2 separate regions of the Homo sapiens genome follow, and region 2 is linked to region 1. Evidence: fine-mapped expression QTL. A gene starts in region 1. The other region holds a variant in brackets. All regions are shown on one strand. Distances are between the middles of the regions.

Region 1 (15,552 bases):
ATAGAAAGCTGTTGGCAAGTGCATGTTCAATCTTTTGACCATTTAGTGAGATAAACTGAGAGAATATTATTATGTTATTTTCCTAATTGTTAAATCTCTGAGAGGCAACATGAAACAATATAAACAAATACATAAATAAGCACATAAATGAATGAATGAATAAATAAATGCTTCTGGTTTGCATCATTCTAACTAAAAAGATGCTAGAGAAGGAGGGAATATTTATCTATTCCAGTGCTCATAATAATTAAAAAAAAAAAAGACCCAGGGAAGCCTGGTTTAAGTCTTGTGGCTATCCCTAAACAAATCACTGGGGTAAAGCTGGTTGCAATATTTTATGTGGCCTGGATAATTTGCCTTTCCTATGTGGGTTGGGTATCATGATGGACATACCATTACTAGTACATAAAATGAAGAGTAGAAGGATACCCAAGGAAGAGGCATGCTATTTCCAGAAGTGGAAAGAGATAAATGATCAGACAAAACCCATTAATAACTGCTATGAAGTTGTGCTGGCTTCATCAAAAGGTGAATGTACCATGACATTACAATGGCTGTTTTCTAGAAACTAAGTATAGGCACGTAGTTGGATCTTAGGAAAGAAATAAAATGAAGATTCAGAAAACCACCCCAAATCTCTCCCTGCATTTCATCTGGGCTCCTCTCTCTGCATGTGCTTCAAGCCGCTTTCTGCAGATTCCTATTATCTTTACCTCTGCTCAGTGGCTAAAAGCAGGTTCAACTGATGATATAATAGTTCATGTCTCCCATCAAGAGCAAATCACCTCTGATTCTTGAATTGCTATGGCAGAGAAAAGAGGGCCACACCACAGTTAGATAGTTTACATGGCCTGTTGAGAGAAAGAAACAATGATTCTCTTAGCTCCAATTCCAACTTCCCTAAGAAGAACTGATTAGCTTGCTAATCAAGGAAGTTACCCCTTTCCCTCCCTGATCCAATAAACTGTAGCCAGTGGGGAAGTTTCTCATTACAAAAACTTGCCCTTGGAATCTCCACCATGTAAGCAGAGAGTCAGTAAAGTAAATATGTTTATATGGTATATACTTTACTGGATTTTTTAGCCTTAGTCATTATATCCTCCGTATTTTAACATCATTGTTAATAAAGTAGAAATAATGCCCACGTTGCTTGTTTTGGGGGAGGATTAATTACAATGAAAAAAAAAAGCCCTAGCACATAGAAAGTTATGCTCCTTGCATTAAAGAAGGTTATGGTCTAAAATCAAACCATAAGAAAAAAATTGTCATTCTTATTTATTTTGAGTAAAAACATTGTCTTCTGACTCTATAACATAATTAGATGATTGCCAAGCTCTATTCCAGTTATTTAATGCCAATGATTTTCCCCCCGTTGATTCCAAACCATTAAACAAATAAAACAAAACAAAAAATCAAATGCACTTTAAAATCAGGAGATTTGTTCATATCTTAAGGCTATTCCAAATCATGCCACAGTAGAAAGAGATTTCAAAAGGATTCAACTTGATTTGAGTAACGGCAGCCTCTCCTGGACAAGGTGACTAATTTGAATTTGATAACTCTCATTTAGATGAATAAATTCTATTAATCTATAATCTTAAGAGAATGATAGATATATTAATATTAATCAGACATAGTTTAATAGATACTGATGTATTTATACATCTTATGTATTTAATATTATATATTATACAGCACTTATCTTGAATTATTTCATTCACCAGACATTTATTGAATACCTGCTATGGGTCTGAGCAATGTATGAGGGACTTAAAATTCATGGAAATGTAATTAAAATATAAAAGTAAAAAATATAAACTTTATTTCTCAACATAAGCTCTATCAAGTTCAAGGCACTTTAGTAAACAATGATCCCAGCCATTTAGTACATTCCTAAAGAACTGAGGGTCCTGGGAAGTTTACCACTTCCACCTCTTGGTAACCATTGCTTTGATTGTGCTTTGTCCTTAGGATCATGCTGGTAAAGCCATGTTCCATCTATTATTAAAATTCTTCAAAGAAATTCTTCAGGATCTTAATCTCACTTATTTAAAATCTCCATTGAAAGCTCTGCTCTTGTCTGCAGCTGATCTGGGCTCAATGATTTTGTCACCCATTGAGTGGAAGGTTTGCTCAACTTTAATTTTTCACTCAGAATTGTGTAAGCTGAACTAATTGGGATGTCTATGGTCTTGCCTATTGTCTCTGTTGTTAATTATTGGTCCTGTTTAGTTAGGTCACAAACAAGATGAATTCTTTTCCTTGAAAATTGATGTAGATGGTCTGCGTCTGTGGGCTTCATCTTCAGCGTTGTCTCATCCCTTCTTAAAACTAGTTATCCATTTGTAAATGACTGGTTTCTTTGGAGCATTCTTGTCATAAACTTTTTAAAGCTTCAGTGAGCTCACCATTCTTCTACCTAAGCGTCATGATAAATTTGATGACTGGTTTTGCTTTAATTGTAGCAGAATGCATGTTTCTCTGCTAGGGGCTCTTTTCAAACTTTTGTTTTACCTTTCTCAGAGCCTTAAATGAGATCATCATCAGTCATGTTATAACAAGTTAGTATGAGTTTATTTTGGTGCAGTAAAGTTTTGAAATCCATGCATAGTTTTTATTAATAATATGTACTTTCTGTGAACATTTTGAAGACCCCTCATATTTCCGAGTGGAGAATAACCATTATTTTCTGATCAATCTTATTTTTGTTATTTATAGGAAAAGAGGTGAGCCATATAATAGAATAAGATGTCAGATATGAGAAAATCATCTAACTGAGAGTACTGCAGAAATAATGTGACCAACATTCTCAGAAGAGTAATGCTGTATGCCTTCCATGAGCTCAGATTTTAAGGAAATCCAGTAGGTAATCTGAAGGAGAAGCTAACTTCCTAGCTATCACCATAACACAGACTGCATGTTAGCATTATAACTGCATATCCATACAGAATTTTCCCTATGCTTATCTGATTTGGGATTTAAAATATGCATTCAAAAGAAACAGGAATTTATGATAAAGTCTAGCAATATTTATTTTAATCTGATTGCATTCTTCAGGAAAATATTGCACTAAGTCAGGTTTAGATACCACCATGTGGCAGATAATGTAGCTGTGAAAAGTGTCATATTCCATTTGGGTTGTTAAAATGAAGTACCATAGCCTAGGTGGCTTATAAACACAGAAAATTATGTCTCACAGTTCTTGAGAAATAGATCAGGGTGCCAGCATGATCAGATTCTAGTGACGGCCCTCTTTTGGACTGCAGAGTGCCAGCTTTTCATGTCTATTCATGGCAGAAAGAGAGTAAGTGAGCTCTCTGAAGTCCCTTTTATAAGGATACCAATCTCATTCATGAGGGCTCCATCTTCATGACCTAACTACCTTCCAAAGGCCTCTCCTCCCAATATCATTATGTTGGGAGTTAGGATTTCAATATATGGGTTTTGTGGGGCCACAAACATCCAGTCCATTGTAGATAGCTCCTTAGCTTTCCTTACCATCAAGAATATATTGAGACCTTTGGTATAGTACAGTCTGAAAAATTCTTGACAATAATTCTGATTAGCCAAGCCTGCATTAGTTGCCTGTACCTGGACCCTTCAACCATGGCCAAGAGTCAGGGCCAAATAGTATGAACAAGGCCACTTCATAGACACATCTGCCCAATCATGTGTGGAAGCTGTTCTCAGAGAAGGAGGGGTAATTATGAGTCAGGCATCTACTATCTGTGTCTATTATAGTCTTAAAGGAGTGAGGCTGAAAAGCAGAGCCCAGAAAAGTGGCAGTGTTTTATAAAGGATCAAAAATTCCATTTTCTTCCTTTCTAGACTATGACAGTTATTACTGACTATCTCTGGTTGACCACGATGTTTTCATTAGTACAGTACAAACATATTTGTATACTTTATCTTATAAAGATGAGAGGATCTTAAGAAAATAGTGTTGGGCTCTTGAATACTTTTATATTTCTGGAGACTAGAATCTAGGCACCGTGATGTCACACTTTTAACGCAACTCTTTGAGTGCTGAATACTTCCACTAGAGCAGGGTACTATCACTAACATTTATAGTGAGTAGCTATAACCATTCTGTGTTGAAACTAATGAGGAGTTATGAAAGGTAATCTAACTGTGGGATCTAAGACAAGGTAGCTAGAAAAGTTACAGGAAAAAAACCAAGTTACAAGAAAAAAAAGACTTGTTGCTTTCACAGTCTTTCAGAACTGGCATGCTGTATGCAAACATTTGAGAAATTATAATAAAGAGTTTTAAGGAGACACTTCCATTGGAAGAAAAGAAGTCAATATGTGGAAAATGTTTACTACTTAGGAGAAGCTGTTTAAAAATATTTAGATTTACATCTATATTGATATCTGTATCTATAGCTAAGCTTCCAAGTCATTAAGAATGTAGAATTCACGGGTCTTTTTTGGATTGAAAAAGAAGAAGGGTGAATAACTTGAAGCAAGGAGGGAATATAAGATACCAAATTAGCAGGGCAATATAATCTGGGTAAGATTTTATAGACTTAAAATGGTCCTTTGAGAAATATCCCAGGGTACAGAAAGGGTCACTGAGTGCTTCTTGGGATTGGGCTATCCCATAGGGTAGTCTAATATGTTCTGATAGCCCTATGTAATCCATATTTGCATCATTATTCTACTGAATACCAAATGCCTTAAAATTCTAATCATGCCATGGCATCCTAGGAGTCTGAGTGCTATGCTTTGCTGTCTGCGTTGCAGATGTGATTTAACTCTGATTACCTTGATTTGTCAGTGAATTTAGGCCCAGTAGCATTTAAGATAGTAACTGTCTGCGGATATCTGACTGAGTATTAGAGAGTATTGTCCCTGATGGCAATAGCTCAGTAATTTGAAATCCTGTGAAAGCTTACATCTGGTTGAAGTAGAAGGTCATTTCATGTGAGAGTAGCACTGTCACGTGTCTGCATTATCCACACATTTGGTTACTGAAAGACTAATATATGCAAGCCCAGCCCAGGGTGGTATGCAATGGTAAGCCAAAGGATGAGGAGGAGCTAAATCATGAAAGAATCCTGATATTCACTTGGACACATGACTGCCTAGAGTAGTCTACATTTTCCATGTAAAGGATGGAATGAAAGGGGAAATGGTGTATGCAACTTTAGGAAATTTTCCCTGGATACAAGAATGCTCTTCTCTTCCTCCTTCTTCCCTTTCGTCCTTGCTCTTGCAAGGTAGGTGTGATTGCTGGAACTGAAATTAGCAACAGTGGCCACAGATGGCTGAGCAAGAAGACAAAGTGTCTATTTCAGTTTGGAATGCTTTTGAGGGCCATACCTGCACTAGACCACCTACCTCTAGATTTTCATTTGAAAAAGAAACAAATTTGTCTTGTTTAGGTCACTGCTACTTTTTGTTTCTGTTGCTTGAAGCCAAATTGAATCTTAACTAATATAGTATGTATGCATCATTTAAAAAATTATTTTTGCTTATCAACTTTTTCCCACTAACTATTGATTTCATTCCGATAAGGGGGCTTTTATTGAGTATGAAAAAAGCAAGATTACTTTGAATATGTAAACATTACATACCCTCTCCCCTTTTATAGCAATTATGGCTGAGATGTATATCATTATACAAAATCCTTGTCCATATCTCTGCTTTTTTCTGTAGATGAGATATCTATACATAGAAACACTGGATTTAGTGGCATATATATTCTATAAAGCAGTTGTTTCATATTGTCAGCTTCCTTTCTAGAGCAATTGTGTCACTATATATTACTAGCATGGAGGCATGCCTGTCTCAACACACTTTCGTTAGAGTTTAGTAATAGAGCACTGTTGCTATTTCAGTTAATTTTATGGTAAAAACATGAAACATGATAGATCTCCTAAATGGATCTATTTTTATGTATTAGATTTCTATAGGCAGAACATATTTCCTTGCATTTATTGGCCATTTGTATTTATTCTGTGAACAGATGGTTTTAAGGTCTTTTCTAAACTTCCATTCTGTGGGGATCTTAGTATATTTCTTATTGATTTGAAAGGGTCTTTGGTCTAAAAATTTTAATTAGTCATTTAAATGTTTTAATTCTCTTTATCTTATTTGATTAGATAATCACTTTTTTTTTTCATTTTTAGAGCCCTTTTCCCTTTGGTAAAAATTATTTTTTTTCAATTTTAACGGTGCTGAAGCCTACAGTGCCATCTTTCTAAAAAACCACTCTAGTTTGCACAGAGTTACATCATATGATAGTATCTGTGCTCAAACATCATCTGTATGATGTCTTCTCCTTGAGAAGAAGGTGTTAAATATATGTAACATAGGTGTTAAATACAGTAGCTAAGAGGACACAGAATTTATTTTATTTTTATGGAAGCTTCACCTTAGAAGAACATTGGCAAGAGTCATGGATTTCCTGGCAATGAAGTGGGATGTTTTATGTCTTAAATCAGATATAGAAGACTATGTCCATGAGATTAAAAATGACTTGGAAGCATGAAGTTTGAGATTAAAATATAAGCAGCTGCCTTAAATAATGCTGCCTTGACATTTGATTAAGTTATACAAACCATTAACCTATTCTCTTTCTTTCATTGCTTTTCTTTACTCATTGGTTATTTTTATTCACACACCCCGATTTTTGGTTCTTTCTCCCTCGTTATTGTCTTTGTAATTTTGCTTATTTGTGGTCAACTCCTCCGTGGTGAACACTTCCAATTACTTATTTAACTGACTATGCTTAGTTTTCAGTTAATATTTCATTTATATAGATACACATATATGTATATCTATGTGTGTACATATGTGTGTGTATAAATATACATGTAAAACTTTTACTTTGAAATTTCATTTTCCTGCATCCCTCCAGACCTCTGTTGTGTTAAAGATGATTCTAAAAACTGATCTATAGCTACTATTTATTTAATATTCTCATGCTACCACTAATAATCTTTAATATCTATATATTGTCATTATATATTTTTATCGATCTAAATAAATATTAAATATGTATTTAATGTTTCTGATGCTACCACTAATAATCTTTAATATCTATACTTGTCATCATATATATTATTACAATGTTATTTTTATTACTTGGTTGTTTTATTATACTTAATACAACCATTAAGCATTTGAGAAATGAATTGAGTAACTTCCATTTTTCCTCCTTTACAAATAAGAGCCTCTTGTCACAATTGGCTAGAGTTTACTCTTTCCAAAACTATTTAAGTAACAAGTGACTCCAGATGTCAATTTGTATTTTCTTTAAGTACCCAGGGGAGTTCATGGATGTCCTGTATTAAGCAAATTCAAGTAGCATAACTTCAGCTTGTGAACATCTAGTTGGTCAGAATTCAGCAATATCATTAAATCTCCCTTCCCACCCCCAATTTTTTTAAAGGACTAACTATGCGCAAAGGACTGTAGATATAATCTTTCCTTATACAGATGATTAAAACTAGCCATTTGCATTCAAGAAAAACTGTAATCTGAAGAAGCAAATGGACAAACCATTAATGATTAAAAAGGAACAAGGAAAAAGGCAGAATAAAATAGGTGTTAGAGGAGATGTCATCAAAATGTTACAGGGTATCATGAAAGGAGTGATTTTTGGGGAAGGAGTCTTGGTGAGAAGAGGCTTCTTGGAGAACGTTGGATTGGAGTTGAGCTTTAAAGAATGAATGACATTTTAACTGTCACTTTGTGTTGGGTATGTTTTTAATTCTAATGAGGTTTCAGGTTCTTCAGATATGCTAGGATTGATGTTACCTCTTAAAGAGCTCCTAGAAGTCGTTAGGTCATTCTAAATGTATACATTGAAATACAATTTGGGAAATTTAGCTAGGGATGTAATGTGCTTGTTGAATGAATATGATAAATCTTAATGATTTGAGTGTACTGGTATAGAAAATAACATCTTAGCCATTTGAAATCACGACATTTTAGAGCAGGAAAAGACCTTACAAATTATGTAATCAACAGTCTCCTTTACAAAGAAGGCACCAAAAGGTTCAGCAATTGACCAAGGCCACTCATTTAACTTGACCAGACTTTTCCTCTGTCAGAAGGCATGGTTTTGGAATCCGCACCTTTCTGTATCCATTATGGTAATTTCCATTGATGATGTGAAATAAGATAATTGAATCTCCACGATTGTTCATCAGACAGGGATACTTTAAACCGTGCAATGAACTTGCAGGTCGAGTTAAGTTTGAAGGAACATAAAATTGACCAAAGGCAGGAAACATTTTCAGACTCGGTACTTGCATAATGAAAATACGGAATAATCCGCACCTGAAAAAATGAGACACTGGCAGGACTTTCAAGCTGATGTCGTTTACTCACCTAGGGTGGAGTGGGAGAGGAAGACAAGAGGAGAAAGGGGGGAGGGAGGTGATGGAGAGTGGGAGGGGGAGAGAGGGAGGGAGGGACAGAGGAGGAAGTGGAAGAGAGAGAGAGAGAAAGAATGAGAGAGAGAGAGAGAGAGGGAGAGCGAGCGCCGAGGCGGGCCTCGAAGCCACTGGAGAGGTACCCTTTGTCTGACAAACCCTGAAAGGGAAGCCTCTAGTAGCAGCCCTCCCGTTCCCACCTCCAAGCGTTTGCCGAACTGCTAGGTGGAGCCCGCGCCGCGGAGCCCACGAGCACTCCATATCCGGGTTTTGCCGGCCACCCCTTTCCCTGGCGCGAGCCCCCTCCCCGGCTCTCGGAGCTCTTGCCGCTGGCCCGCCCGACCGCTGCTCATTCTGGCCTCCGCTCCGGCCCCGGCTGCGCCTACCCCGCGCGCAGGCTGCACGGTCCCCGCGCGCCCGCGCTCTGACCCGCTGTCTGCGCGTCGCCCCCCTCGCCTGCTGGCCCGGCACCGCTCGCTCCAGTTCCCAGGAGCGGGGATGCAGATGCTGCAGCTGGTCGGGGTGGGCGCCGCCGCCGCCGCCGCCGCCGCTGCTGCTGGTTTTTCTCGGACTGCTCGTTGCCTCCGCTCCGGCAGCTGCTGCCGCCGCCACCGCCGCCTGTGACTCGCCCCCTCCCCTTTCTTTCTTCTCTTTTTGCCTTGGTCCTCTTCCTACGGGTGTGCGCGCGCGCGGGTTGCACGGTTTGCTTTGGCAGGAGCTCGCTCGTGTGTGCGCGTGTGTGAGTGTGCGTGTCTGGAGAGCGCCAGTGCCTCGCTCGCTCTTGGGGAGTCGAAGAAGAGAAAGAACCGAAGAGACAGCGGCGGCGGCGCAGAGCCCGGGGCCGCGCGATGAAGCTCCCACATGCCCGCAGCTGCCCGGCCCGGCCGGCGAGCTAATCATCCACCCCACGGGCTCGGGGTTCGCCGGCCCCCGGGACGCAGCCCTCGGCGGCCGGGCGCCCGCTCTGTCTGCGCGCCCCCTCCGTGCACCGGGGAAGGAGTTTGTGTGGCTCTCGCTCCGGCTGTCCGCGGAGGTTGCGGGCTTGAGAGGGGACCCTCGGCTGGGAGAGAGCCTCGGGAGGACGAAGAGGAGGACGGTTTGGCGGAGAAGCCACCCCTGGCCCTCGCGGCTCCCCCTACCTATTCCATCGCTCCCGCTCCGAGGCGGAAAGGGGAGGACGTGGAAGAAGAAAAAGAAAGAGAAGGGGGGTGGGGTGGGAGAACTGGATATAAAGATCGGCTGGGGGGATGGTGGAAGATTTTTGGTCTCTTCGGCAGCGTCTTTTCTTAAGCGGCGGCGGCAGCAGCAGCAGCAAGAGAAGGAGAAGCAGCCCCAGCTATGACTGCCGCATGTTAATAGCTGCCGCTGGGTCCCTCGGCTGCTGCTGGAGACAGAGCCTGACTCCGAAGTTGTGCAACTGTGGACTGGGAGAGACATTTGAACCCTCTTTTCTTTTCGCTCCCCTTTTGCCCCCTTGGGGTGTGTGAAGCGAGGAACGTAAAGGAAGGCGAACATTTGGCTCTCTTTTTCCTTCCCCTTTCTCCGTGGCTGTGTAGCGGAAGAAAGGGAAGAGAGACTTTTTGTTGTTGTTTCCTTGACTGGGGTCTCCACCCTCCTGCTGCTTTCTCTGCGCTTCGATTCTCGTTATTTGCCGCGTGTGGTTGGGGGTGTCTGCACAGGGGCCGGCCGGTCTTTTGCCCCGGGCTCAATGGCTGGATTGTGGAAACTGCACCCGCCTTCAGGTTGTTGAGCAACTGATGGGACGATCTCAGGGACCGGCGTTTACGAAAGGTAATTTATTCTTCGCACTCTTCATAATAGGGGTCGCCCTGGCCGGGCGCAGGCGGCGGCATCCACCGGGCGGGCAACAAGAGGGGGTGCGGGGTGCATGCACACTCGCCCTTCCACTCACACACTCGCCCTCACACACACACACACTCATCCGGTCGTGGTGCGGGGCGGGAAGGGAACCTCCTGGCTGGTGGGCGCTCGGGTCTGGCGCGGGTTGGAGTTTTTTCCAGCCATTGGGCGATTTGACCGGCCGAGGGGAGTGAGGGGGATAAGAGACTGGGCGCATTCGCAGCTGCACACGCTGGGGAATAGGAACAGTTCCCACCCCGTTAATTTTCCCTCTCCTCTCACCCCAGTGGCATCCCCTGGTGGGGGCAGAAAGCGGACAGGAGGGCGACTTTTCTCCGTCAGGCTGGAACTGGTGCCGCTGGAGGCGGGAGCGGGCTGGAGGACGGACAGGGTCTGGGTGAGAAGCTGGGCTCTGGGAAGATGGAAAATGCAGGGTGCCGAGCCCGGCGCGATTCTCCCTCAACGCTTGCCTGGAGCATCCCTGGCCCCTTTTGCCCAGGTCGCGCCCCTGAGTCTTGGAGTCGCGCTGCCTCCCCGCGCCCTGCCTGTTGTGTCTCCTTCACGGCAGTTTGGTTTAGACCTGCGTGCCCAGGCTTTGTTAGGCGGTTTTGGCTGGAGAAAGCTGCCACTTTCGTGGGTGGCCCGGGCTGCGCTGTGCTGGTAGTGGGCACTGGGCGGGGGGCGGCGGTGTTGCACGAATCCGGGCGGCCGCGGCGCCGGGGCGGGGTGGGCAGAGCATTGGTGGTCGCGGTTGGCGGGTTACAGGTAGGAGAGAAGGCACCTCGGCGCTTCTCTGAGGAGAAGGGAAGGCTCCAGGCTGCAGCGCAGCGTCTGAGCTGCCGCGACCCAGCCTCCGGTCCCACGTCGGAGCTCAGAAGCTTAGGGTGCCAGGCCCCCAGCACTATAGGTGGGTGTGTGTGTGTCTGTGCGTGTGTGTGTGGTGTGTAGGGGTGGGGGCGACCTCCTCTACCAGCCTTACTTGGCGGCGGAGTCAGCGTTTGAGTGTGTGCGCATTTTTGCGCCCCAGGGACGGCAGAGAGATATTTGCGGGGATGCCGGAGCTGATGCTGCTGGAGCTGAGCTTGCTTATTGAAATCGCCTGGGATCCTCTTAACTGGAAAATCTGGTTTGAGGAGGCCACGGGGGCCCCCGCAGGGTGGCGAGGAAACCTTGCCGTGTCCCCTTCCCCTGGAGAGGCGCAGCTCGGCGACATGCGTGCGGCGCGTGAGAGTCGCTGGTGCAGCGCTCGATGCACCCCAGAATGGCCCTGATGAGAACCTCATAGGGTAGTCATCTCTCCAGCAGGTTGAAGTAATCGAGTCCAGCCAGCGTAACTCCTGGTCCCTGGAATTCTCTGGCCACTTTCCTACCTCTGATAGAAACATGCGCTGCTTTTATTTATGGCCAGAGATATCATAGCAGTTGGGAGAACTCGAGGCTTGCGAGCCACCTCCAGGGTGTCTCCTCCCTGTGTCTGCGTGTGATCCCTGCCTGCGGTAGTTAGAGCACATTGTAAACAACGGTGTAAGCACTCCTGCCACAGTCTCCTTTAGAGTCTAACCTGCTGTCGTCTGTTGTGTTTACTTTCCTGGTTGTATTACTCATTAGGAAGTATAAGGCTTCTTGCACCTCTGATTTTACATCCTTCCAGCCAGCTGCTGGGGAAATGAGGAGACGCATAGACTCTGGCAGGAAGGAAAAATTGCCTTCTGTGTTTTGCTCTGAAGTAAATAGGCAGTCTGCTAATTTTAGTGTCATATGGGCTTTCATCACTAGTTAAAGAATGTCATCGTAGAATCTGCAAAGAAACACTTCTTTAGCACTTTTTCATTTGGAGACTTTCCTATATTTCCCTATGAGAATAAACAGAGTTTGGTAAGATTTCTTTTGTATATTTTTCCATCTGTAATGATTCTAAATGATCTGGACTTCTGGCGCCCAATTTATCTGCATGTGGATTACAAATAGGATAGAATTCTCAGCTCTTTTATAATCACCAAAATAGGATACCAGATAATTTGTATAGGAGTTAAGAGGATATTTGTGTGTTGAATTATCTCTCAGCTTTGTTTCACCCAATCTTTTTTTTTTTGTAACCAAAGCAAGGGTAAAGACTGTACATAGATAAACACAGTTTATAAAGTGTTACTTTTGCAAGTGAAACTGCTTTTTACTTTCAATAATTAAAATGTATTAAATTCCTTAGGTCTAGATTAGCTCTGACTGCTTTGGTGTTTGTTGCAAATACTTGTGCTCTATTTTGTTTTAAAAAGTATAGGGCTGTTAATGGAACAGTGTACTTTATTTTTAGGTACAATAATTTCTGGATATCTTCATTATTTTTTAAAGACCTTGACCTCTTGAAAAAGCATAGATTGCAAAAGACACTGAATCACTGATGCCTGACTTTAAGTTATATTTTTATGAGAGATATTGCTAATGGCCATCACCCTAATAGAAAACTTAGAAAATTTTGATTTAATTCATGAGAATCTAGCTTCACGTATTTGTTTCATTTCTAGATGATACGTATTAAAGTCTTTATACTTGCAAATATTTCTGAGGATTAAAGAATACTTGTCCTCCCATTTTCCAAGATCTAATCACAATGATTCCCAGTCCTTACATTATAAGATTTGATCAGATCTGTTCTTTGTTTCCTAGCAGCATGTGTTCCCTAGCAGTCATACATTCCACAGGTCCTGATGTCATTAGAACTGTGTGTGTCAGTGTATTGTGCTGTCTTTAGCTGAAGGTGAATGTGTCAGAGTATTTGAATGCCATTCCATAGCTCTTCCTTATCACTAAGTATTCAGTAACCTGATCTATTTGTGTATATGGTTGACTAGACTATTTCTACAAAATCAGGGTAGGAGGAATGATTAACTCAAAGTTTTATATGAACTATTAATTTTTTTTTTTAGATAGAGATGTTAGGCTGCATCAGGCATCCCCGGCCTGAAGAGTGATAAGCCAGTATGTGATTTGCCTGATGGGTAAATGCTTTTGATGTCTCATTTTTGGTTGCTTGGTGTGATTATCCTTCAGACTGAGAGTGCTCCTCAAAAATATGAATGGAAAGTCTTTCAGAAATGATTTTCTTAATCATGATCTTCTTAACATTTTGCAGATTTAAATACTCTTTTCCACAGGGAATAATAGCAAGTATGGCACTTACTGGCTGCAGCTACTGTGGCTGGCATTGTTTCTACTAATTAGGAAAGGCAGATTTTTTTTATGGATTTGATTTACCATTGATTCCTTTGTGAGCTATAGCCAAGGAAATCATAAATAGTAGATTAAAAAGACTATAAAGTCATGAGGATTGAAGTTAGTCAAATAATATGATGCAAAACTGAATTGTTTTTCAGATTGGATTTGGACCACTTTAAGTGTTGGTTGAAACTCTCTTTGAAAAGGACTGCCAAGTAGAAGTGACAGTTACTGTTAGAAGTGGGGAGTTTTGGCCCAGAAATCAGCAAGGAAAACTGATTGCGATTTTCATATTTAGGATCAAACAGTGATTTTAAGAAATGCTGTGCAGCCTTAATTTAGCATGGTGTGAATGGCTAGAGTAGTTGGAATTTAAAAAGGATGATCTGTCCTTAAGTTTTGCAAATGGCTATTTTGCCTTCTCTTTCCTAGATTTGCATTATATTCAAAATATGCATTTGCTCACTTTGGGAGGAACCCTAAAGAATACAGCTGTATTGTAATTTATTATTTGTTTGCCCACAGGACATATTTACACTTAGATTATTATATTTATGTCTTCTTATTTCATGCGAATGCATTTCTTCATAGAATAACCAATTTTATAATTAAATAAAAAGTAAAACTTGCAAGTATGAGTAAGGTCCTCCTGACATTTTTCCTTGGTTATCTTTCTGTGTTTTGTCGGGTAGGGTAGGGTGAAGGCTAGGGAGTTGTTGATCAATGGAGAGAAAAATCCAGATTTTTCATTCATTGTAATACATTGTGAGAATGTAGCGTGAGCATGCTTGTAAATAGCATTTATGCATCTAAGGTGTGCAAGTTTTTCCCCAAATCTTGAATGTCATTACTCTGATCTGAGTGTCAGCATGGTCCAATAAAATTAATTCTACTGCTGCATAAGAAACCAAGTGTAACTTTTTTCTTAGAATTGTGACATGTGCTTATGGATTCATAAGCACAAAATGTAAAAGAGAAAATAGCTGTCCTACTTGAAATTAATTGAACTTCTTTATTTATTTTGAGGGGTGGATAAAAGGGGAGCGTTTCTATATTTGCTCATAATAGGTTCTATAGACCTTGATAAATCATGTCTTCCTTATGTCTTATTGACACTTAAAACAGGAACTTAGTTTCAATTTTAATGAATGTCTTCATAAAAGTGATTACAAATAGGTGTTAAAAGAAGTGAAAATTTGGTCCATATTATTCAAGAATTTAAATGGAATATTGTGGATGGTAATCCTACTTATTTTGAAAACTATTTTTGGGATGGAAAAATAAATCATCCAACTGAATGTTTCTGCCTGGCAAAACTTCCATGTCAGTTACTTTGTAAAGCAAACAATGCTGTTTTATCAGTGTTTTCAAAGTGTCCTCTGGGGAACCCTGGGGATCTCTGACACCCTTTCAGAGGAAATGTGAAAAGAAAACCTTTTTATAATAATGCTAAGACATTATTTGCCTTTCACTCATATTCTTTAACACGTGTTCAGTGGAGTTTTCCAGAAGGTATATGATATGTGATGGCATCATTGCTCTGATGGCATATGTCATATGTTCTTATGTATTCTCAAGTTTTAGAATTTTCCCAGTTTATCAATACTTGAATGGTGACAGTTACAGATATCATAATCAAAAGTCATTTTAGAGGCTGAGTGCAGTGGCTTACACCTCTAATCCTAGCACTTTGGGAGGCTGAGATGGGCAGATCACTTGAAGTAAGGAGTTTGAGACCAACCTGACCAACATGGTGAAACCCTGTCTCTACTAAAAATACAAAAATTAGCCGGGCATGGTGGTACATGCCTGTAGTCCCAGCTATTCGGGAGGCTTGAAGCAGGAGAATCGCTGGAACCCAGGAGGTAGAGGTTGCAGTGAGCCAAGATCGTGTCACTGCACTCCAGCCTGGTCCACAGACCAAGACTGTGTCTCAAAAAATAAATAAATAAATAAATAAATAAAATAAAATAAAAACATGAAGTCACTTTAGGTCATTTATTATTATTATTATTATTATACTTTTAAATTCTGGAATACATGTGCAGATGTGCAGGTTTGTTACACAGGTATACACGTGCCATGGTGGTTTG
Region 2 (15,552 bases), 480 kb before region 1:
CCCAGAATCCACTGAAGTTATTTAAACTAGCCAATTTTAAACCCGTCTTACTTTGACTTTCTCGTGAAAACCACATTAAAGGCTCTTGCCTCATTTTCCTCCAGCTCCTGCTAACTCCTGCCAGTCCTTTGTGCTTCCCTGCATGGCCTTCCATGATATGGTGTGCCCCTCCCTCCTCTTAAAAACACTAAATTACAATCTTTTTAATAGTCATTGTCTCTTGATCTGTTGCCCTGACCATCCCTAAATAATAATAAAATGTACATTTTGAAACAGGGATATCTGATGGAAAGGAGGGCAGTGGATTGTTGAGTGAGAGGAAAAAAGTCAGCACAACAATTTTTTATAGACTTTCTTTGAGTTCAAACAACTGATTGGTGTTCTGATGAATTCTCAAGCCGTGCATGTATATAGTCCTTAATGAGCACTAATGCCCTGACCTTGTTTGATAAAAGCCTTCCGAAGTAAATTTATGGTAGATGGAAAATTACACTTAAAGCATCTGGAACACTTTTAATTTTCTTATCCTCAGAAAATAATAGAGAATTATCTGACTTACCCCTACAAATTGTTATTCATTTTTAGAAGAAATTGAATAGCCTCATTCTTCAAAATAGCCAACCTATAGGAGCACCCAAATAATTTAATCTTCTCCATCAGAATGAAGGATAAAGGCACAAAGACATTTAACTAGGGACACATACACAAGAAAAGCATTCCATAAAATTGCCAAGAATAGAGTGCATGTTAATAGGGAATATAAAGCTGGTTGGTGTCAAAATCAGTGTTCTCCAAAGATTTTTGGTGACCTATCTCCTCAATACAAAATCTTGACGCATTCTCCAATATATTAACTTATTTCTGAAGCATAAGTATGTGTGCTCTGTCAATCTACCAATTAAATAGTAGTGAAGCATAATTTATTTTCTAATTTCTAGATTGACACAGAGAAATAGAATATATTATGTTCTTTCTACACTTCGTTGCTTCATTTATGACAATCCCTCCGGTGAACAAGCCTCCTTTTAGAAAACGTTAGGAAATCTATAGCTTGCAATCTAGTCCAGATTACTGAAATACCCTGTACAGGGGAGAAAACATTTTTTTCAGGTTGTTAGTTGTGACACTATCCTGAAAACAAAAGTCAAATTAACAAAAGAAGCAGAAGTTTATTAACATTTTCTATACCCGTCACACAGTAGATGCCTCTGTCCAAAAGTATCTCTTTGTCAAGGCAATGGTTTAGGGGCCTCACTTAAATAGCATTTTAACAAGAATCATAAATCCTTTCTAGAGAGAAGAAAGATGCCTTCTCTGGGCCCATAATAAGTGCTCCAGTAAGGAAGGATTGATGTCCTGCCACCAGGCAATAGAGGCTGAGGCAGAGTGTTCCCCTGTGTTTCTAATGTCTTTAATTTAATAATTCTCAGTACTTGGGGTAGAAATATTTTGTTTTTGTTTTTTTTTTTCAGTTGCCCTTTTGAAACTTTACTTTTAGAAGGCTTTACATATGAAAAGGCAAGATGGTAGCTTTGGAGGGATTTGGTTTAGAGGTTTTGAGATAAGAGATTGGCAAAAAGAGAAACCATGGAAGCAGAAGAAAGAACAAATGTCATATATCCTAATGAAACAGTTTTTTAGTCTTGAGAATAGTAAGTTCAGTTGAGCAGTTGTGTTTTATTTCAGGAGGTGGTAGTGTAAGTGGGTTGTTGTTAGAGTTAATTCTCTATATGGTATAGGCAAACAGGTATTTAGTAAGAAACATTGCTATGGGAGCAAAAGAAAAACAGAGATTAATATCTGGAGCAACCTACAAACTAGGCTTGAGTTTTGGAGGGCAGTTAGCTGAGAAAATTTCAGATTTGTGTTTGAAATATCTACAATTGCGATGGAAGTAAACAGTGACAATCTGACAAATTTTCCTAGATAATAGTTTGTACCAGATGTTTCTGTGAACTTTTTGTCCATAAATACATTTATGTGTGTTTTCTCTGAAGTTAATATCAAGTTGTCTAACTTTAGCTTGTAGGGCTTCAGAAAAGCATGGTTTAAATTTTAGTGATTTTAAGTCAGGAAACTGGGAGATAAATTAAAAGCATTAGTCTAGAAAGTTGAGGCCAGATAATAGAAGAAACTACAACTTGAAATTTAGTTCAGAAAATGTTTTTAATAAAACCTAACAATGGAGAGGGCTAGAATCTAATAACAGGTATGCTGTAGAGGATTTTTAAAAAACATTTATGTATATATATGTGTGTGTGTGTATATATATATATATGTATACACACACATATATATATACACATATATATACACATATATATGTGTGTATATATATGTGTATATATATACACATACACACACACACACACATACATATGATGGCTTTTTTTTTTTTTTTGAAACAGAGTCTCGCTCTATCAGCCAGGTTGGAGTGCAGTGGCACGATCTCGGCTCACTGCAACCTCCGCCTCCCAGGCTCAAGCAATTCTCCTGCCTCCACCTCCTGAGTAGCTGGGATTAAAGGCGTGTGCCACCACACCTGGCTAATTTTTGTATTTTTAGCAGAGATGGGGTTTCACCATGTTGGACAGGCTGGTCTTGAACTCCTGACCTCAGGTAATCCGCCAGCGTCAGCCTCCCAAATTGCTGGGATTACAGGCATGAATCACCGCACCTGGCCCACATAGAAGATGTTTTTTTAAAAACATATATGATGTTATTATATATACAATGTGTTACAAAAATCATATATATGTGTGTGTGTGTGTGTGTACACTCAAAATTAAGCCAATTTTTACTAAGGTTTTTTTTTGTTTTGTTTTGTTTTGTTTTGTTTTTTAAGATGAAGTCTCACTCTTGTCCCTCAGGCTGGAGTGCAATGGCGTTATCTCAGCTCACTGAAACCTCCGCCTCCCGGGTTCAAGTGATTCTCCTGCCTCAACCTCCCGAGTAGCTGGGATTACAGGCGCCTGTCAGCACGTCCAGCTAATTTTTGTATTTTTAGTAGAGATGGGGTTTTACCATGTTGGCCAGGCTGGTCTCGAACTCCTGACCTCAGGTGATCCACCTGCCTCGGTCTCCCAAAGTGCTGGGATTACAGGCGTGAGCCACTGCACCCAGCCACTAAAGATATTTATAGTAAGACTAATTTAATTGTAAAATAAGTTTTAGCTTTAATATACTTGGCCTAATTATTTGCATAAAGTGAAGCAAGCATAGTGATTGGCCACATAGGCTCATTTTTCTTTAATCTACTTTGTTGGAAATTATCATAAGACATCTCAGAGTAAACCTTTAAAACTTCTTTAGGCTAGGAAGCCAAGCCATGGACTTCTCATCAGATTTTATCTGTGGTAACTGGGTAAATTATTCTTTTCTTGAGGTCCCATATTATTTTGAGGTTCCTGGGCCTGTCAGAAAGTGACATTTTTTACTTACCATAATGCTGAAGCCTTGCAGGGGAAATGCATAGACAAGGTACCAGGCCAGTTCTTTCAAGAATGTTAATGGTTCCTTAGCATTAATTTTAGTTTCTTGAAGTAGTCTAGTCGTTTCAGAAAATGTGACATCCCAGTCAAGGCCCCAGTAACATAACCTGTGTTTTAAATTGTTCCACTAAAGAAAGAAAAATTTTACTGAACTTATGAAATAACTATATTGTTTTAAAATATGAATACCCACAAATAGTTTTAAATTCTCAAGGAATCAAGTAGAGACAAAGGCAAATGTTTAAATTTTGCTGACAAAAGCATATTTTACCCAATTGCTGCATGCTATATGTAGCTTATTAGAAGAAAATAGTTTCCTTGACTCCAGAAAGAAATACATAAAAATAATCAATAATAATTTAAGCAAAAGGAAGTCCTGAAAAAATCATTTTATTCCTGTATCAAGTTTAGTCCTATGTGATTAAGTCATGTTCTTCTAAAAGTTGGGCTAGTAATCTTTATGAACCCATCAATGTTTTCATTTGAGTTCTTAAAATTTTTACACAGTCCAATGGTATGATCTACAAAGTTATCAGAAATCTATATTTAAAAGTATTTGTCATGATCCTTTTCCATTAATTTTCTTGAATAAGAAGCAAATTTTATACTATAGCCAATTGTAAACAGTCTTTTGAGAAGAATAAAAGTAAAACAATAAATGCCTGTGGATGACAAAACCCTTAGAATAGCTATGGCTAAGGATGCAATTGACAAGGAAATTTGGTAATTTCTAAGGCATACAACAATTTAATATAATAATCAGAATTTTGACTGGTAACATATACCAAGACGTATCATAATTTTTAAAAATCTCATACAATTTTGGAGCACATATTAATAACACATTTATATAAATATAACACAAATAAGGTTAAACATTATTTTTTATTTGACAATGCTTCCCCTATAATTTAAGATATCAAATAAGCCTAATATGTCTCTTTTGGACTTCTGTCTCTTTTTTTGAATGTCTAAAAGTTAGTTTGAGGTCAAAAAGACTTAATTTAGAATTTGAAATCTGATTTTGAGAAGCTTGTCAAATGTGTCAAAGGTACAAAACACTTTATCACAATAGGATCACAGGTCACTGTGAAATAATCATCATTTATTTAGTCAAAGTGATAATTAACAGATTCCAAAAAGTAAAAACCTTTACTCTCTGATTGGTAGGAGACAGAGTTTTTTGAAAAAAAGACCTAATAAAGATAGGGTGAAACAAACATTTCTCTCTGTTTTTATTTTTTTTTGTAGTTTTCTCAAAAGGAAAACCAAAGTCTTCTATTATCTCTTATTAATAATATACAAAAAAATCGTATTCAAAAGAGAAAATCAAATTCTATCTTTGTATCAGTTGTATTATTCATACTAAATATAATTTCAATAAAACCTTATAAATAAATCCATCCAATCTTAATTAGTTTTGACCACACAAGATTTCTCTAAACCTTTTACTATGTCTTATAATGTTTTTCAATTTTCCTTTTTCTCCAACTTCTATATCCACTTAGTTTATTTAATTGCTTCCTTTCTTCATTTATTCTAAAGTGACATATAAACTAGAAAAAAATCACTTTTTTAACAAAAACATAGTTTCAAATGTCATAATCTCCTTTATGAAAAAGTCTTACATTTATTATATATTCTGTATACAGAATTGTTTCCCTTTTTATTGCAACTTTTAGTGACCACATATTAGCCAGAATTTTAATTTTTAGGAATCTTTATAGTGAATACCTAAGAAGTGGATAATTTTTAATTGTCAGTCATGTACTAGCAATTTATTAATACACATTTTATGATTTTTAGAAATACAGCTTTTTAATGGAATTATTTTTCAACGTGGAACAGAATATATTTACTAATATATCTAAAGATCTTTTGTCTTTCTGAAATAAGAAGCCTAGATTTAGTAATCAGTGTCTTAGCATTTCATCTTTTTTGAAAATGATGTATATATTTAATGACTATCTATCATTTAACTTAGCTGAGCAAAATGTTTAGGTTATTGTTACCATAAAGAATTGAGAAATATTTTTCATTAAACATAAAAGCAATGATTAAAACTTCATTTATAAGCTTTATCTCACTTTCATCTATTTTATTTATTTAATCTTAACAATTATGGTTGGAAAATTTTATGAGACATTAGATAAATCTAGCCATCATCTCAAGTTAAATTTTCTATTCACCATTTTTATATTACCATATGTTAGGCAAGTACCATAAAATAAAGAACCTTAAAATTAAACACATGTGGCTGGATGCAGTGGCTCACGCCTGTAATCCCAGCACTTTGGGAGGCCGAGGTGGGAGAATCACGAGGTTAGGCGATCGAGACCATCCTGGCTAACACGATGAAACCCCATCTCTACTAAAAATACAAAAAAAAAAAAGAAAAAAAAAATTAGCCGGGCGTGGTGGCAGGCGCCTGTAGTCCCAGCTACTTGGGAGGCTGGGGCAGGAAAATGGCGTGAACCTGGGAGGCAGAGCTTGCAGTGAGCCGAGATTGCGCCACTGCACCCCAGCCTGGGCAACAGAGCAAGACTCCGTCTCAAAAAACAACAACAAAAAAAATTAAACACATGTATGTTTTGCTAATAGCTCAAGACATAGTTCTTTTTATTAAACCAAGAATTTTAAACTAGTCTTATTCATCAAAAAAAATGTATTCACATCACATGAGCTTGAAAAATATTTGGGCTATTTATTTTCTTTATGGGTACTTATCTGCCTTTGAGTTAATTTGGTACCATGTAGACAATATACAAATATGTGTATAGACATATACATACATGTAAATACAACATATAAAATACATATGCACATATATATGCATCTAAAAGCCAAAGAGATCAAGGAGTTTAATACAAAAGAGCAGAGAGCTTTAGATTTGTCTACTTTCAACTCTTGGAGTTGCAAGGAATCTGTCCACTTAGAAATATTGCTGTTCCATGAGAAAATAATGAAGTTTCCTTCC[CA/C]AAAAAAGGAAACCTCTCTGTTTTTCTTTGGCATCTTTTCTGTTTTTCTCAAGAGGTCCTAGTGTCGTTAGAAATCTTCCTTAGGTTTCCTCATGTGACCTCAGGGATAGCAACTGGAAGCAGGGACAGAGAAAAGTAAATGAAAGAGCAAGTCCTTGTGGCAAAAATTATGTCACCAAGAGGATAAACAGGCAGAGGGAGTTTATAGATTAATAGTTAGCAGGGATTTACAAAGAGAGGAATTTAGTCAACTGAGAAGCCTCTGTAGAGAGAGAACAGAAGTCTTAAGAATACACACACACAAACACACACACACACACACACACACATATATATATATAACCTAAATATATGTATACTATAGGTAAAATTTTAAATATGTAAGTCTTTAAAAAATTAGCAGATATTAGCTGGGCAAATGGCAAATATTCTTGTGCCTTGTTTCCTTGGCTTTTTCTTTCTGAAATGTAACTCTCTTTCAAATCTGATCTCTGCTAGAATACTACTTAACTGATCTCCTCTATGTTAACGTTTTAAAGCCGTGGTAGAATTTACAACTCCAAGGGACTGAGAAGGCTCTCTTTAAAAAAATACTTTTAGATACAAAAGTCCAAATTTTCAAAGGTATATCCACTTTTAATTGTAACTTAGCACCAGTAAGCCTTTTTTTTTGAGACAAAGTCTTGCTCTGTCACCCAGGCTGGAGAGCAATGGCACAATCTCTGCTCACTGCAACCTCCGCCTCCTGGGTTCAAATGATTCTCCTGCCTCAGCCTCCCGAGTAGCTGGGATTACAGGTGCACGCCACCACACCCAGCTAATTTTTGTATTTTGTTAGTAGAGACGGGGTTTCACCATGTTGGTCAGGCTGGTCTTGAACTCCTGACCTCGTGATCTGCCTGCCTTGGCCTCCCAAAAAGCTGGGATTACAGGCGTGAGCCACCACGCTGGGCCAGTAAGCCTTTTTATGGCTTACAATCCGATGCAAGAATAGCATCCCTAAAGAGAGTATAAAAACGTAGTGACCCCTCAAGATCTAAAGTTTCTTCCAAAGAGTATGGGTGCAGTGGCTCAAGGCTATAACCCAGTGCTTTGGGAGACCAAGGCAGGAGGATTGCTAAAGGCCAGGAGTTTGAGCTCATCCTGGGCAATATAGTGAGACCCCCATCTCTACAAAAAATTTAAAAATTAGCCAGGTGTGCTGGTGCATGCTTGTAGTCCTAGCCACTCCAGGGGGCGGAGGCAGGAGGATCACTTGAGCCCAGGGGATTGAGTCTGTAGTAAGCCATAATCATGCTACTGCACTGTAGTCTGGGTGAGAGAGCGATACGCTGTTTCTAGAAAAAAATAAGATAAAATAAACCAAAAAGAGGCTCTAAGAAAGTAATATCCCTCCTTATTAGCAAGGCAATGAAAGTTGAGATAATTAAGAACAATTCCCAAAAGCTGGCACATTTGGACAAACAGACATTTGGGACCCCCAACTGAACTCCCACATGGCTGCCTTACACGATTAACAAAATCTGTGCCCTTCAAGGTGTTAGAGATGAGAAAATAAACTTGCTCGTTAGAAAGCCAAACTTCTTAAGAAATAAAACAAGACAAAAGGAGAACCTTATGAGGCTTTTTCTTCTCATGACAAACCATACGAAGATACAGAAACAAGGAAAACAAAGACCATCCTAGGAAAATGACAAATCAATAACCAAATAAGTATGTACAACAAATCTACAAGAGTCACAAATTCAAATAACCATTTTTTACAGATTTTTTTTCCTGTTAATATGAACCTGGAAAGGCAGGGACAAGGAAAAGAATTTACTTTCCTCTCTCCACCAGGTACCACAGAGGGAGAAGCTGGCTTGAGTAAGAAACCTTACCTTTTTCTGTGGACTTTTGCCAGTTCTCTTTCAGGATTCCCTCTATAGGTCCCAGAACAAGTGAATTATCTCTGCTTTTCCAGGCTGCATTGAAAAATTGTAGGGGAGAAATCATAGTTTCTTTTAAAATTCTTAGTTGAGACATCTCCTAAAAACAAAAAGTCAAATTAACAGAAAAGTAAAAACAACCAGAAGTTTATTAAAACATGCTGTACCCATCACGCAGGAGAGGCCTCAGTTTAAAAGTATTTCTCTCTCAAGGTAGTGGTTTATGGGCCTTGCTTAAATAGTACTTTAACAAAGAGCCATAAATCCTATCTAGTGATAAGACAGAGGAGAGAGCAGTTCCAGTCTTTTAAAAGGCAGGAACATGTGAAAAGATTGTAAAATCTGTTCCCAGATTCTTCTGGTGCTTGCTAGTGCCTTCCCTGGGCCCATAAGCAAGTGTCGTCTCCAGTAAGGAGGGAACGATGTCCTGCCACCAGGCAAATAGAGGCTGAGGCAGAGCATTCTCCTATGTTTTTAGTGACATTAACTTAACAATTCTCAATATTTCAAGGAGAAATATTTTGGTTTCATTCATCTGTGATACACTTTGGACATCTGTCTTTACTCAAATCTCATGTTGAATTGTAATCCCCAATGCTGGAGATGGGGCCTGGTTGTGAGCATTTTGGTCATGGGGGTGGATCCCTCATGGCTTGGTAGCTTCACCATGGCGAATGAGTTCTTAAAGATCTGGTCATTTAAAAGTGTGTGGCACCTCTCCATCCACTCTCTCTCCCCACTGCTTTCGCCATGTGATGTCCAGGATCCCCGTACACCTTCCACCATGAGTGTGAGCTTCCTGAGGCCTCCCCAAAAGCAGATACCAGTGCTATGCTTCCTGTACAGCCTGCAGAACCATGAACCAATTAAACTTCTTTTCTTATAGTCAGTCTCAGGTATTGTTTTATAACAGTGCAAAAACAGCCTAATACAACCTGCCTACCTTTGTTCCTTATTCCCTGCTTTCCCCCAGCCCCCATTATCCATTCTTCACACAACTGCCGCAGTGATATTTTTAACATTAGTCAGTTTTTGTTTTTCTCTTTAGATTTCTCCAAAGTCTTCCAACTGGTCAGAGGGTGAGTGTCCCAGATGGAATGTAAGCTGAGCTTTGGTATGCAAGTGATTTGATAAGAAATTGTTCCCAGGGAAACTGGTAAGGAGCTGTCCCCAGGGAAGAGCTGAGAAAGCAGGACAAGAAAGGACAAAATCCAAGTGAGGGTGTCATCACAGGCAAAATCCCGTAAAGCGCAGCTTCAGCCTAATCCCACAGAGGAACTCTGAAGAGAAAATTCAGCCTCTGTGTTTTCCCAACTACAAGCTGCACCTATTAATTATCTAATTATTGGGTGGAAGATCGTGGGCATACATTTTCAGATATTTCTCTGAAGTGTGGACCAGGCAGGCTCCAGTATCTTGAGGACATTCCTCCAAACAAGATTCATAGAAGAAAAGTGCACAGAAACTGAAATATGCACAAAAATAGTCATATAGATCCTAAGGAATTGGGGGACCAATATTATCTATTACATAATTCTACTTAGAAATCCAAACTACTTAGCATGGTTTTGTTTAATTAAGCCCTGACAAATTCTACAAACGCCTGTCTCCCACCCAGCCCCTCACACTAACCAAACTAATCTCTGTTGTCTTGCTGTAACCAAGGTTGATCCCTGTGGCCTATTTCCTTTGCCCAAATTCTCACTTGAACTCCATTGTTATATGATTGACCCTATCGTATGCTTCTGATTTAGTTAAAAATGATTGCTTTTCACAGAGTCTGTCCCTCATCATCTGCTTCAAACTTCCATACTTCCCAAACTCTTGATTAAATGAATTTGTTTTATTTTCTTTATAGCAGTTAATGCCATTTGAAATGATCTTGTTGCTTTATTGTCTCTAACTCACCTCATTGCAACATAAACTTCATGTCTGTCTTGTTTACCCTTTCAACTCCACCACACAGAGCAGTGCCTGATACAACATAGGTGATCAACAGTTATTTATTTAATAAGCAAATAAAGGGCCATACATGACCTACTTACATTTTATGCCTACTCCACCCTCACCTCCTTGGATTCCTAACTCCTATTGATAGGGTTGCTACTAGGAAATTAAGAACACCTCATCAAGAATAAAATAAGAAGACATTTAAGAAGGAACTTCCTTATCATATAGTGATGCAGCTATATAAGTTATTAGAGTGCACTGCCATGTTGTTTAAACTTCTTGTTTGGAAATCTCAATGAATCCTTGACTGATCTCGCTAAGGTCCCTTGCCTTGAACTTTGTAGCTTGGGCACATATGAAAAGCTGTTTCTTTTTATATAGGGTATACTCTACTCTAGAAGTCATCAATATATCTAAACATAACAGGAAGAGAATACAGCCCAAGATCTCTGATTTATAAAGTGGCATATATGGGAGTCCAAATCAAACTCACAATACCTCAGATATACAGAGAGAAATATGCCTAATTTAGTTTGCCTGTAACCAATGTCTGTTACTCCCCACGTTTCACTATGGGTTAAAGGAAAAATTTCTACTTTGGATATTTTATGTTTAAAACTTAATCCAATTCAATAATTTGTTAAATAAATTTATAGGAAGTCATTGGTTTGGATTGAGTTCCTGCACTAGGCTTCAACAGACAAAACCAAAATGGAGTCACTCGTGCTAAACTTCTTTATTTAACAAACTGACACTAAGTTGTTTATCTGACTTACCAAGAAATCAGAACAGAGAAAGATAATAGCCAAATCCCCAAACATTCCTGTTTTATCAGACATGATAAAAAACAAAACGTCTCCTCTGCTTTAACCCTAAAAAGGAAAGAAACCTGGAGTAATCTAACAAATGCTAGCCAATCTGCTTTGTGTTCCATTTTTCTAATCTCTTCAGCCCTTTCTGCCTATAAAGCCAGTCTCCTCTGCTCAGCTCATCTGAGTGCCTTTTGTAAATCTTTAGATGAGAAGCTCTCTGATTCACAAATTGCTAATGAAGGCCAATTAGATATTTAAACAAAATTTGTTGAATTTTTGTCTTTTAACAAATTTAAAGAGCCTTTCAAATTTGACAAATTTAAATTATATTAATAATTTGAATAATGTAAATCCAGTTTTGTGATTTAAGATTCCATTTAGACAATGATCAGTCTTACCAGGAAAAATTTCTCAGTCACTCAAATATCTCAGGCATAGGCCTGTTTGTCTGGCTCTTTCCCAGAGTGAGATACATATCTAGGAAAGAAAGCATGTGCCTCATGTACACATCTGGCCAGAGGAAAGGCTCAAGGCCCTTTATTGTGATGTCCTTTGGCTTCAACCCAGGCTATGCCACTAATCCATGCTTCTGCTGCATCCAGATGAGCAAAGTATATGATTGATATCACTCAAAGTCTTATTTTTCTGTACATTTTCATTTGGCCTATGTTCTAAGATTTTTTTATTGCAGGTAGAAGATATAAAAAGTATAAAAAGACATTTTTAGAGAATGTGCATAGCTCAATATTTATATGTGAAAATAGGTAATTAACAATATTATTGAAATCATATACTGTATATTTCTTAATATAATGTGCATGAAAAATCAAAATTGTTTCATTTATATTACTACATATAATTTTTTCTTTCACATTTTTGTCACACTCAGAATTCTAATATTTTATAATTATAGTCTTGGAAATCAATAAATTAAACTTTCCATTTTACAAATGAAAAAGCTATGACATACAACAGGATATAAGAATTTTTTTTAAGTGTCAGAAATCTGGGAGTTTCAAATGTGGAATCTAGGTCCTAATTACCAATATAATGTATTTTCCTCTATCTACTCTGTGTGTGTGTGTGTGTGTGTGTGTGTGTGTGTGTGTGTGCGCGCGCGCGCACGTGCATATATAGACTGATGCAGAGAGAGAGAGAGAGAACACTTTCTTTCATACATTCATTTATTGATGGCTTATTCCACACCTTTGTTATTGTAAACAATGTTGCAGTAAACATGGGAGTATAGACATCTCTTCAACATATTTATTTTATTTCCTTTGGATATATACTCTGTCGTGGTATTGTTGGGTCATAGAGTAGTTTTATTTTTTTTTTTAAGGAACTTCCATATTGTTTTCTGTAATAGCTGTACTACCTGATGTTCTTAGCAACAGTGTACCATGGTTCCCTTTTCTCCACATCCTTTCCAACATTTATTACCTTTTTTTTCTTTCTTTTGGTAATAGCTTTTCTAACAGACGTGAGGCAATATGTCATTGTCATTTCAATGTGCATTTCTTTTGTGATTAAGGATTTTGAGCATTTTGTTATATACCTGCTGGTTATCTTTTGAAAATTTTCTGTACAGATCCCTTGATTATTTTAAAATCAGGTTATTTTTCTTACTACATGGTTAAGTTCCTTACATACTTTGGATATTACCTAGTTATATGATATATGGTTTGCAAATATTTACTCTCATTTCACAGGTTGTCTCTTCACTCTGTTGATTGTTTCCTAGGCTGTGCAGAAGCTTTTTAGTTTGATGTAATCACATTTATATCTGTGCTTCTTTTGTGTGTGGTTTTGAGTTCATATCCAAAAATCATTGCCCAAACCAATGCCATCAAGATTTTCACCTATATTTTCTTCTAGTAGTTTTACATTTTCAGGTCCTGCCTTTAAGTCTTTATCCATTATGAATTGATTTTTATACATGATCTGACATAAGGGTTAATTTTGGTCTTCTGCATATGGATATCCAGTTGCCCCCAAACAACTTATAAAGAGATTGTCCCTTCCCCATTTTGTGATATTGGCACCTTTGTCAAAAATCAATTGACCAGAAATATATGAATTTCTGGACTCTCTTTTCTGTTATATTGGCCTGTCTTTCTATTTATATGTCACTACCATACTGTTTTTACTATAATAACTTTGCAGTATATTTTGAAGTCAGGTGGTATGATGCCTCCAGGTTTGTTCTTTTTTCCTCAAGGTTGCTTTGGCTATTTAAAGCCTTTAGTAGCTCTATACAAATTTTAGGATTGTTTTTCCTTTCCATGAAAACTGTCATTGTGGTTTTGCTAGAGATTGCATTAAACCTGTAGATAGCTTTGGATAATATGGACATTTAAATAATTTTAGTTCTTCCAACTCAGGAACAGAGGATATCTTTCCATATATTTGTGTTTTCTTCAATTTCTTTCATCAATGTTTTTTAGTTTTAGTGTGCAGATCTTTCATCTTTGGAAAAATTACTTTATTCTTAAGTATTTCATTTTTTGTTAGCTATTGTAAATGAGACTGTTTTTGTTGTTTCCATTTTTGAATATTTCACTGTTAGTGTATAGAAAAGTTACTGATTTTATATATTGATTTAACATCCTGCAACTTTGCTAAATAAGTTTATTTTCAATTTGTGGCGAAGTCTTCGGTTTTCTATGTATAGAATTGTGTCATCTACAAACAGGGACAATTTAACTTTGTATTTTCCAATTTGAAATTATTGTCTAATTAATGCCTCATTTCCTTTTCTTCATTCTGTAATTTAACTAGAAGAGCCCCTACTGCTTACCAAAGCTGTTATCCACTTTTTAATATATTTTTTTTTCCTCAGGACTCTGTGAGTCATGATTCCATCTTCTTATTAGTTACCTCTAAGGAGATGATTCACAAATAATCTTTTAAAAAACTTCTTTCAACTTCCTCCTGTCATTTACCACCCACACTGAATTACTTTTCATGTAATCACATTCCTGTCAGTAGCAGAGTAATTTGCCCACTATTTTAAGTATTAGGTGTATCCCAACCAATACCTTGACAGGGCATTCAGTATTAAAATTAATATCTCAACAAATAAATTGAGTTCCTATAATTTTTTTCATCAAACTCCAAAGACCTGGAAATTTCTGGTGGAGAGAAGGTGAGACATACAACTGTGTCTTCAGTGATACTCACATGCTTACATGAAAAGAACAAGAATATTCAATTTCTACTGCTTTTTCTACTGCAAGTATATCTAAGTCTTCTCTGTATGGAAATATACATTACAGATTATAAAATTCCATTCTCCTTTACCATAGCTCTGTGATCATAGGGAGGCCAGGACTTCAAGTTGAGAATCATTGGCTTGTTAGAAAGAATTAACAGGTAACTTCTATGTTGGGCTTTGTATACGTTGGACTGAACCTCAAAACAGAGGCTGTGATATTACATAGCCTATAAAATATACATTTCTAGGGAATATATATATATTTTTTTCATTTATTTTATTTTATTTTATTTTTTATTTATTTTTTTTAATTTTATTATTATTACACTTTAAGTTTTAGGGTACATGTGCACAATGTGCAGGTTTGTTACATATGTATACGTGTGCCATGTTGGTGTGCTGCACCCATTAACTCGTCATTTAGCATTAGGTATATCTCCTAATGCTTTCCCTGCCCCCTCTCCCCACCCCACAACAGGCCCCGGTGTGTGATGTTCCCCTTCCTGTGTCCATTTGTTCTCATTGTTCAATTCCCACCTATAAGTGAGAACATGGGGTGTTGGTTTTTTCTCCTTGCTATAGTTTGCTGAGAGTGATGGTTTCAAGTTTCATTCATGTCCTAACAAAGAATATGAACTCATCATTTTTTATGGCTGCATAGTATTCCATGGTGTATATGTGCCACATTTTCTTAATCCAGTCTATCGTTGTTGGACATTTAGGTTGGTTCCAAGTCTTTGCTATTGTGAATAGTGCCACAGTAAACATACGTGTGCATGTGTCTTTATAGCAGCATGATTTATAATCTTTTGGGTATATACCCAGTAATGGGATGGCTGGGTAAAATGGTATTTCTACTTCTAGATCCCTGAGGAATCGTCACACTGACTTCCACAATTGTTGAACTAGCTTACAGAACCATCAACAGTGTAAAAGTGTCCATATTTCTCCACATTCTCTCCAGCACCAGTTGTTTCCTGACTTTTTAATGATCGCCATTCTAACTGGTATGAGATGGTATCTCATTGTGGTTTTGATTTGCATTTCTCTGATGACCAGTGATGATGAGCATTTTTTCATGTGTCTGTTGGCTGCATAAATGTCTTCTTTTGAGAAGTGTCTGTTCATATCCTTTGCCCACTTTTTGATGGGGTTGTTTGTTTTTTTCTTGTAAAT

Direction of the effects. Alleles are on the strand shown, and positions count from the first base shown. SD is a standard deviation of normalised expression in the study named.
With allele C in place of CA in region 2, the expression in subcutaneous fat of the gene that starts at base 8,738 in region 1 is higher (small effect, 0.34 SD a copy in GTEx).

What was found. PIP is the estimated chance that this variant, and not a neighbour inherited with it, causes the effect.
Region 2: its variant is fine-mapped to the expression of ADGRL3 in subcutaneous fat (GTEx, PIP above 0.99).

What each region holds. Positions count from the first base shown.
Region 1 is chr4:61,191,589-61,207,140 of GRCh38, forward strand. ADGRL3 (adhesion G protein-coupled receptor L3) reads left to right here and starts at 8,738. Exons shown (of 27, transcript NM_001387552.1): 1 at 8,738-10,177. It overlaps LOC124900173, which reads left to right and starts at 7,499. Exons shown (of 3, transcript XM_047416555.1): 1 at 7,499-7,586; 2 at 8,554-10,177. The coding sequence starts at 7,499. The coding sequence ends at 9,728. RefSeq lists an enhancer at 10,884-11,456.
Region 2 is chr4:60,715,324-60,730,875 of GRCh38, forward strand. No RefSeq gene overlaps it. Among named protein-coding and RNA genes, the nearest start is that of LINC02496, 27 kb to the right of the region's middle. RefSeq lists an enhancer at 8,654-9,853. The variant CA/C (reference allele first, on the strand shown) is at 6,469.